2 separate regions of the Homo sapiens genome follow, and region 1 is linked to region 2. The links come from fine-mapping of genetic effects on gene expression. A gene starts in region 2. The other region holds a variant in brackets. All regions are shown on one strand. Distances are between the middles of the regions.

Evidence for each region. PIP is the estimated chance that this variant, and not a neighbour inherited with it, causes the effect.
Region 1: its variant is fine-mapped to the expression of DSE in whole blood (INTERVAL, PIP 0.97).

Annotation. Positions count from the first base shown.
Region 1 is chr6:116,464,505-116,469,886 of GRCh38, reverse strand. No RefSeq gene overlaps it. Among named protein-coding and RNA genes, the nearest start is that of CALHM6-AS1, 3.5 kb to the right of the region's middle. The variant C/T (reference allele first, on the strand shown) is at 2,382.
Region 2 is chr6:116,367,740-116,373,055 of GRCh38, reverse strand. It overlaps DSE (dermatan sulfate epimerase), which reads right to left and starts at 2,109. Exons shown (of 6, transcript NM_013352.4): 1 at 1,935-2,109. It overlaps LOC100287467 (a long non-coding RNA gene), which reads left to right and starts at 1,337. Exons shown (of 1, transcript NR_148944.1): 1 at 1,337-5,316. RefSeq lists enhancers at 1,238-1,738, 3,253-3,302 and silencers at 1,736-2,030, 1,793-2,322.

The DNA of each region.
Region 1 (5,382 bases), 97 kb before region 2:
TGGTCAGCTTCAGTCATCAGATCATTTAGGTGTTGTAGGGCAGGGGTCCCTAACCCCTGGGCCATGGGCTGGTATCGGTCCATGGCCTGTTAGGAACTGGGCCACACAGCAGGAGGTGAGTGACAAGCGAGCAAGTGAAGCTTCATCTGTATTTACAGCTGCTGCCCATTACTTGGATTACCGCCTGAGCTCCACCTCCTGTTAGATCGGCAGCATCTAGTGAGGGATCTAAGTTGCATGCTCCTTATGCGAATCTAATGCCTGATGATCTGTCATTGTCTCCCCTTACCCCCAGATGGGACTATCTAGTTGCAGGAAAACAAGCTCAGGGTTCCCACTGATTCTACATTATGGTGAGTTGTATAATTATTTCATTATTACAATGTAATAATAATAGAAATAAAGTGCACAAAAAATGTAATGCACTTGAATCGTCCTGAAACCACCCACCCCCACCCCTGTCTGTGGAAAAATCGTCTTCCAAGAAACCAGTCTCTAGTGCCAAAAAGGTTGGGGACTGCTGTTGTAGGGAATGTGTGAGGTAGTTGTTCAGCTCATTCAGAATAAAAGCCAGAGTGCTTACAGTGGTCCAAAGGCTTACATAATCTGTCCCCAACCCCTTTATCTCTCTGACTTCATGGCCTATTTCTGTCCCCTAATTCGCCATTCTCAGACCACCTTGATTAACCCTTCATCCCTTCAATCTTTGCTCAAAGGTCGTTTCTCATGAGGGCAACAGCTCTCCAATCTCCAGCCTTTCTAATGCTTCTTGGGGTGCTCTCCGTTTTCTTTTTTTCATAGTATTAATCTTCTCCTTACATACCCAATTATTTATTTTTTATTATTATTATTATTTATTGTGGCTGCTCTTTTTTCCTCCGCTTCCCCCTAGAATGTAAGCTCCATGAGGACAGAGCTTTGGTTTTGCTTCATTGACACATGCTAGAACATGCCCAGAATGTATCAGACACTCAATAAATATTTGTTGGTTTAAGTGAATGAAATAATAATGAAATCCTATGAATCAATAAGGAAAAGACAGACAAACTAAATATAGAAAATGGGCAAAAGGTTTGAATAGGCATTTCATAAAAAAGGATATCCAAATGGCTAGAAAAGAGATGTATAGATGCCTAAAGTCTGCAATGATTAGGGAAATGTCAGTTGAAACCACAATGAGAGATACCATTACATATTCCCCTGACAAAAAGTAAATAACTAGAAATACCAAATATTGCAGAAGTGAGAAGCAATGAGAATTCTTATAGTAGTATAAATGGATACAATCCTTTATATTTGACATGATATAACAAACTGGAATATGTGCATACTCTCATGCTACCACTTATTCCCAGAAATGCACTCTGAAGAAACACTTGCTCGTGTTTATCAGAGTACAAGTGCATGAATGTTCATACCAGCAGTGCTGATAAGAGCCAGAACTGGGAACAACCCAAATGTCCATCAGCAGTTCAATGGACTACATTATAGTATATTTGAACAATAAAATACCACACAGCAATCAAAATAAATAAATTGTCCTAGACATAATGTGGATTAATCTCTTAAAAACAAAAAGAATATCACAAAACAATTATTACAGCACGATTGTATTCATTTAAAGTTCAAAAACCAGCAAAACTAAGCATGGATAGTTTAGGAATGCACACTTAAGTGGTAAAACAGCAAAAAGAAAGAAATGATCACTTCTCACTTCTAGGTGGAAAGAGTTGGAAGTGTGAAAGGATGTATGAGGCAGGGGTTTCTGGGGTGCTGGAAATGTACATTTCCTTCCACTCTTCGGTGGTTACATAGATGTTTGCTTTGTAATAATTATTAAATTGTACATAAATGTTTCATATACTCTTCTCTGTGATTTATTTCTCATAATTTTTAAAATGGCAATAAATTGCCGGATCTTGTAGGATATTCCTTTCATTTGGAACTTCTTAATGTTCTAGTCCTTGTGGCAAATCATCTTGAAAGAATATACCCTTTTTTGATTTGGATCTTTTAAAAAATCATTTTATGTATGTATGTATTTATTTATTTAGAGACATGTCTTGCTCTACCACCCAGGCTGGAGTACAGTGGCACAATAATAGCTCACTGCTACCTCAAACTCCTGGGCTCAAGTGATCCACCCACCACAGCCTCCAGGGTAGCTGGTACTACAGGTGCACAGCACCACACCCAGATAATTTTTTTTTTTTTTTTTTTGGTAGAGATAAGATCTTGCTATGTTTCTCAGGCTGGTCTCAGAACTTCTGGTCTCAAGCAATTCTCCTGCCTTAGCTTCCCAGAGTGCTGGGATTACAGGCATGAGCCACTGTGCCAGCCCTGATTTCAGTCTTTTTCACTGGATAAGAATATAATATGAT[C/T]AATTCCACAGTCCTTACATTGCAATTTACAAGAGATATTTCATAAGTATGTAATGAAGAGGAAGGGACAAAATTAAGTCAACTAAAGGCTTTGCTTTTGGGGTAGGCTTAGTGTGAGGTGTGCTAAACACTCAGTGGGAGTGCGCTGCTGTCAAAATAGGCCCTGGCTGCTGCTGCTGGGGCTGACTCAGAGAGGGAGGGTTTCTCCATCTTTTATCTTGGGGAGAATAATTTATTGTAGGCCACCTGGTAGATAAGATGCAGGATGTTGTGAAATTTAGAGTTCCAAGATGTTTTTCAGCCAGAGACATTTGAGTATTTGGCTAATTCTATTTTCAGATACTCCCCTTAGGACTTGCTTCTTTAGTCAGTTCATTGAGCATTGATATTTCTAGCCATGGCTTTGGATAAAGCAAGGAGACCATTCTTAATCTTATGCCTTGTTATTATCTTGCCAGTACTCGATACAACGTAGAATCATCTCTTATAACAATGTGGTTGTTTTTCAGCAAATATTAATAGCAGATTCTGCATCTGAATCTCTTTAAAGGTTAGGTGTTCAGGATAGCATAAAGCTGGGGGTGATGATGAAGAATCATTTGGTAAACCAGCAAATAAATACATACTGAGTGTAGAAATGCTTCTTCAGCCAATGATGCAGCCTGTTTGGGCCAGGCCCAGAGGAGTGGTGACTTCTGCCAAATAGCAGTGACCTTGTTCCCACCAAGAAATAACTTACTGTGTCTCAGTCTCACCATGTTTATTCAAAGTGGTCTTTCCTGTTAGTAGTTGCTGAGTTTCAAGATAAAACGTCAAATATTGAGGGTCACTAAGGAGATCTGTATCTCTTCTGCCCACAAAGTCACATGGGCTAGGAAGGGAAAAATCTGACCCAGTAATAAAAACAGCCAGTGGCCACATTAAACTACATCATCTAGGGAGGATCCGTACCCTACCTTTGGTTTTGCCTTTATTGACATGTAACTTTGGATTAATGATGTAACCTCTTTAACTTTCGATTCCCATTTGTAAATGTGAGTGAGGTGTTTCACGGGTAACCTGGAAACTTGTTAAAATGAAATGAAATAAAAGATGCAAAACTGCTTTTTTGACTGTAAAACTCTACACCAGGGTAAGGTTACTTTTTAAAAATTTCCAATTATACATTTAATATTTATTATTCATTACAACAACTCCAAAGATCAAAAGTGCATGAAATTAAAAAAAATTCCTGCACCAATCTTAGTCCTCAGAAGGGACCACATTTGATAATTTAGTGCTTACCTTTCTACACTTTATGAATGTGTGTGCATGTGTGTGGGGGCTGGTCGGTGGGGTTAACAAAAAAGGGATAATATCCTACTAACCAGTAAAATACTAAGTAGCAATTTTTTAAATGAGGTAAATTGTCAGATACTGACATGGAATAATTGTACTTTATGTGTAAAAGTTACAGAACAACACTTATGATAGAGTTTATGCAGACACAGAGTTTATACATGGCTACTTCTGAGAAGAATATATTGCAAAGGAATGAGGTAATTTTATTTTACTTCTCACCATTCTCTACCATTACAATTATTTTCTTAAGCATATATATTTTCACAATAATTATTAAGGACTGTGCAAGAGGAGGTGGAGCATAAATCAAAACAATGGAGACAATATGATACTACTGAAGATGCAAGTATAAGTGATAGAACATAAAAAAAGTTTTGAAAGGAAAGAATATACAAAAAGATATTGGAGGCTGGGCGCAGTGGCTCACATCTGTAATCCCAGCACTTTGAGGCTGAGGCAAGCAGATTGCTTGAGCCCAGGAGTTCGAGACCAGCCTGGGCAACATGGTGAAACCCCATTTCTACAAAAAGTACAAAAATTAGCTGGGCATGGTGGCACATGCCTGTGGTCCCAGTTACTCAGGAGGCTGGGGTGGGAGGATCACTTGAGTCAGGGAGGCAGAGTTTGCGGTGAGCCAAGATCTTGCCACTACACTCCAGCCTGGGTGACAGAGTGAGATCCTGTCTCAGACGAAAAAGGAAGCAGCAATTGGAAAATGAAATAAAGGAAGTAAAAATGAAACTAGGTATGATATGATTTTCAAAAGCATTCTTTTAGGGAATGAAAAAAAGCTGATCACGCTGTTTCTGCTGCCAACTTTCTTGTTACGCATGACTCTCAACAACAGGATATTCTGCCCTGTAGGTTAGTTCTTTTTAACGGCCTTATGCAGAAAAAGGTAAACAGAAATCAGCATAAGCTTCTGCCAAAAGAGGAAGAAGGGCTAAATATGACCAGTGCTCAATTATTTTATAGTTTAAAGTTTTTTTATCTCATATTTTAAAATTCAGAAAACAGCCACAAATTTGGGGAATGGGCAGGAATGACAAGCTAATGGAAGGCAAGGATCGCTGAAAAGTCCCGGCATTATAAAGTTACAGAATTTTATCCGTAGATATAATTGCTCTCACCGTCTTTAGAGACTTTCTATCAACAAATCCTGCCACATCTATGTACAAAGTCTACCTTGAATCTATCTACTTTTTCCATTTTGGTCCCCATCCACTCAGTTCAAGTTCACTCCCACCTATTTCCACTGTAGTGGCCTCCTGATTAGTCTCTCTCCTTCTACCCTGGCTCTCCTGCTTCCCATGTCATTCCTTTTCTCTCAAGGAAAGCAAACCATCTTCCTAAAATGCTCATATGATGAAAACCAAAATCCTTCTCATGGTTTCCAGGCACTGCACACTCAGTCCCTTGCTCATTTTTTTCAGTCGCCTTTCAGGTTTCCAACTCTGCTAACATCTTTTTCTCCCTAGTCTTTGCACATACTGTTCCTTCAGTAGGACTGAAATGCTCCTTCTTGCTACCCTACAGGATTCAGTTTTCAAAAAGTTTCCTCAAATCCCTTCTCCCCTAATCTAAATCAGGTCACAATTTGCATTTCTTTGTATGGTATTGGTTTTATCTGTATGACTGAAATGCTCCTTCTTGCTACCCT
Region 2 (5,316 bases):
TTCCCCTTCACTTGGTGACTGTACTTTCAGTATTTTTTAAACTGTCAGAATGTACTTTTTAGGCCAGTGTTTTTATTTAACTAAAACTTCATAAAAACGGATACTGACGTCATATACTAGTCAATGAAAAATAACTCTTCCCAAGCTCAAACTTAGGAAGTGCTGCTTATTGATGTTTCTCAGGTTCTACATTAGCAGCTCCAAGAGAGCTAAGGCTGATCTCATATACCTGTGTATGTAACCTAGGTAACCAGCACTATCTTGCACTTTTTGCTGAACCCACACAGACGGGTCACTAGGTGATGGAGACATCAAATTCAATCTGTTATCTTCTCCATTTTTACTAGAACAGACCTTACCTACATACTTCAGAAAAGAACTTATATCTGTATCGTGACCGTCAAAGGAAGAGGTCACAATACAGAAATCTAAGTATTTGCATGAAACAAATACTCAGATAATCCTATATTTTATTTTCTTCCATGCACATTAGGTTTTTTGTGATCCCATTTAGTAATATAGTTAGAATACTCTATACAATATTGTTTATCACTATTTCACATAGAGATTATCATTGAGAATTTTGTTTTGTTTTGTTTTGAGCCTGTCGCCCAGGCTGGAGAGCAGTGGCGCAATCTCGGCTCACTGCAAGCTCCGCCTCCTGGGTTCACGCCATTCTCCTGCCTCAGCCTCCCGAGTAGCTGGGACTACAGGCGCCCGCCACCACGCCCGGCTAATTTTTTGTATTTTTAGTAGAGACGGGGTTTCACCGTGTTAGCCAGGATGGTCTCGATCTCCTGACCTCGTGATCCGCCTGCCTCGGCCTCCCAAAGTACTGGGATTACAGGCGTGAGCCACTGCGTCCGGCCGAGAAATTTTTTAAAAACTTGAGGGAATTACTTAAAGTTTAAATTCTATAATGTGAAAAATACTAAAAATATGTATAAGTGAGATCTTTCATGCATTTAATTAACAGTGCTAAACCATGACTTTCTAAACCATGACCAACGAAAAAATTTTTAAAAAGAACTTTATTACACGAAGATTCCTAGAACTAAAAGCGTCATTGCCTGACCTAAAGAATTTCAGGTAAGTGAGGTTCACCTCCTGATTTTAACCAAAGGCTTCGGTTTCCATCTGAATGCCAGCCGGCTTAAGAGGAGGCTGCTGCTTTAAAGGAGCGATATAAACGAAAAAGTTCTCAGGTCACAAACTTAGCTCAGATTCCAGCCCCGACAGATCTTGAGCCCATGTGGCATCGCTTTCAGAGCTTCCCAGTCTGTGAGTCAAGCCCCCGCCTCCTCCCCTCCCCGGGACTGCCTCGGGGATGAGGTTTACTAACAATTTCTCCGAGTGCCGGCGGAGCCCAGGAGCGCTGGAATCCAGCGTCTGGGAGAGGCTTGGGGAGCTCTTCCTCGGCTTCTGCAGCCGCAAAGTAGGGTTGCCAGCGCCAGGATCTGCACACAAGCCGCCGCCACCTCCCCTGCCCCCAAATGGCTGGGGTACGGAGGGAAAGGAGGACGCGAGGGTGTGCCACCCAACCCCGCAGAGTGAAGCCGAGGCCCCAAGGACCGTCGAGGAAATCGCGGCTGGGCCGGCCAGATCCGACGCACGGAATGCGATCTCCAGGTTCTCATCGTGTTCCCGGCTCGGTGCTCGGCGTTCAAGGGGGTGGGGAGGATCGAAAAGCTGCCCCTCGAGGCTGCTCCGCCGCCGGGGAAGCCCGTGGCTCAGGCTTCACGCGTCAGGCGCTCTCTCGGAGTCCAGCCGAGCCGGGCCCGGGCGCGCAACCCGCGGCGCTCCGCTCTCAGCCGGGGACGTGGCTCTCCGTCTCCCGCCCGCGCCGGGACAGCCCCGAAGGCTACCCGCCCGAAACTCCCGAAGAAAGTTGCGCCGCGCGCCCCAGCTCGTCCCTTGCGCGCCCCTCCACTTACCGCTCCCAGCCGAGGCTTCGTTCTCTCCGGCGTCGCCTCCGCAGCCTCCAGAGCCAGCTCCCGGTCCTCCTCACTCCAGGGCGCCCGGGCTCCCGGCCCCCTCCGAACCGAGCCCTCCGCGCCCCCGCCGCGCCATGCCCCGGGATGCGCTGCTGCAGCCTCGGGCGACGCTACTGAGAGCCGGGCCGGCGGGGGCGGGTAGGTGTGGGCGAAAGGGGCGGAGGGAGGGACGCGGCGGGCGCTGAGGCTCCGCTGGAGGGGGGAGGAAACCGCAACGTCACCAGAGCCAGAGGAGACGAGGATGAGGAGAGGGAAACGGGGACCCCCTCCCCCGGCCGAACCCCGACCGCAGGCCCGCCCCGCTTTCTCCCGCTCCTCCTCTCCCGGGACTCGCCGCTCGCAGCTGTGCTCGGCCTTCCACGCCACCCGGCCCGGACTCCACCCGCACCCCCGCCCGCCAGGCCTCTTTGGCTCTAACTTGTTCTAGTTTCTTAGGACTCAAACGCTTCGGGTTCGAGAATCACACCCAAAGGAAAGGTAACTTTTGGAGGCCCAGGGGGAGGAGCTGATGCTTCCATACTACTCTGCGAGAGGAAAGCGAGGAAGACGTTAAGACTCTTACTACCGGGACTGGTGCCCACTCCAGTCTGCCTCCTCCCGAATAGTTACTGCCTCTTTTCTCTCGAATTCGGTTTTACTCTCTTCTCAAAGAGAAGTTAGTGGGAGGGGGGACTTTGGGGCGGGGGTCACCTATAGAGAAGCAGTTCTCTTTTTTACTGTACCAACAAAATACACTAAATCCAAGCGCACCGAACCCTGCAAACGGAACAGATTTTAATCACAGAAGGTCAGGAGCAAAGCATTTAATGTAGGCAGCTCACAAACAGAAATTTATCTTACGCGGTGGGGGGGTGTGTGTGTGTGAGAGAGAGAGATCCCTCATGCACCCAAGTTCAGGTGGAGCATTTGCAACCTTGGTAGTCACAGCCTCCTGGAGAAGAGTCCTCCTGTTTTCCAAAAATCAGCCACTGCTCAAACACGCTCAGCCAGGTCCAACCAGGCCCCAAGGAGATGTGAGGTAGGATCAGGGCCATCACCTCAGGAATACTTTGCCCCTTCCACCTCCACCCAGTGTGTGCAAGTAACCTACCAGACCTAGATTGTACAGAAGTGAAAGATTTGTAGGATACTTACCCATTCATTAGAATGAGAGATATTTTACTGGGAGCAGTGCTTTTCTCCATGAGTTCTGAAGGGCACCTCCATCCAATTCCTCTATCCTCAGAGGTTCTCACTTCTATTTGGCCAAATAAGGAAAAAATGTGGATGTCTCAGTTTATGCTTCTCTTTTTCAGAAATTGCATTTAAGAGGAACTCCTTACAAACAGGTCAAGAGGAAGTGGTACTATTAAATTTTTTAAATGTTCACTCAGGTGAACCACTAATTTGCATAAACTTCTTGATGCTTTAGGGAAGGCCTGTCGAGGAGAGAAGAGGGCTCTGGAAACTGGAACTAATCTTTGGTTCAAATCCAAACTTTGCTTTTACTACTGTGGGCCTTGGAAAACTAACATCAGAACCTCAGTTTCCTCATCTATAGTGTAACAATATAATACCTTGTTTGAACAGTTATGGAGAGGATATAATAAAAATAGCTAATGTTTATTGAGAGTTTACTACACCATATCAGACGGTCACTGTGCTAAGAGATTTACATATACTAATTCAATTATTAGAATAAATTGTGAAAGTGTCTAGCTGTATTATGTAATCCGTAAGTGTTAATTTCCATTTATCTTCTCAAATTTGAAAGAGACTTTAGAAAAAACATCTGGTTTAATTTACGTAACCTCTCAGCAAGTAGTAGTCTAGTTCAGTGATTCTCCAACCTAGAACTTTAGAATCAGCAGGGGAGCTATAATAAATTCTTTCCAATGGGGACCCCCACGCAAGAACAACAAATCAGAATCTCTGAGGTTAGGGTCTAAGCATCAGCATCTGCATTTTAAAATCTCTTCCTAGATGATCACAATGTACAACCAGGATTGAGAATTCTTCAAAGGAGGTAGTACTGACTGTCATTTGCTCCCCTTTACCCTCACACCCCCCACAATTTTGCTTTTGAGTGACCTGCGAATTGGCCTCTGGATGACATTCACTTTGTGCAAAGCCCCCCCCGTCCCCCCGCCCCCGCCCACCCCATTACAGTAAGTCTCAACAGATCTGCTATTCTGCTCTCTGGAATCTACAGGATACACCTAGCCTTGATTCCACAGGAGAATACTTCAATTTACCTGGGTACATATTAACTCCATCAGCTTTTCTTCATCCATTAGGAAAGCTCTCAGGAGGAGATTTACTTTGCCAACATCTCTCTCAAACCCTGATGCCAAGAATTGAATTCAAGGTTTCACCCAAGTGACAAACTAGAAAGATGTTTAATGGCTTTGTTGTAATTACTGTATTTCCCTAAGTATATCCTTGGAGCTTCCATGGCAGCAATATTACCCAGCTGACTCCATATTACAATCTACCAAATAAAACCTTAAAGTGTTAAAAGTTTAGTTGGAGAATCACTGAACTAAACAACTACACTCAATGCAGTGTTCAGCACTTTACCTGTGATTCTACTGAATTTTATTGTGTTAAATTAGGCCTCTTAGCTTGTTGACATATTGGGTATCATTGATATAACTGAGTAATTCCACCTCTCAATTTCATGACCTCTGTAAATCCGGTCTGTATGCCATGCCATCATTTAAGTTCTCATTCTCAGGTACCTTCCTCTGCCAACCGACACTGGATTTGAATGCTACTGATGAACATTCTTATCAGTTGAGGACCCACATGTTACCTTGTCCTATTTTTGTCTGTTGTCCCAGGGTAGCAGCCTGTGTACATGGGTACGTGGCACTTTTGTAAGAATTAGAAAAAGGTATCCCCACTCTCACCTTAGCTGAAGGATTAGGAAAAAGTGACCCCTTACGCCTAGATGCAGCTCCAAACAGACAGCAGATGAGCTTTGTCTATTGGATGTCTTTGCTCTACTGTAATATTGTCAAAAAACAAAGGAAATGACTACTTAGTGAATTGTGGTTCATGTCTACAAAATTGTGTCTTCCTTTTCTAAGTATCCAGATGTCATTTTAATAATAGGTTTATTCATTTTGTTCAGTATCTGTGAAAAGTTTCTTGCCTCGGTTTCAGACTAAGGCAAAAACTGGAACTCCATCTGTCCACCTCCAGTTTTTTAGTGTTCATCTCCCTCTGCTGATTCTAGCTGAGAGTCCTTATTGGTAAACTCTCCTTGCTGAGATGGAAATTTACTAGGCAAGAAGAAGTTAAGCTTTAGACAGCTAGGACATATTTTCTTACAAGCTTC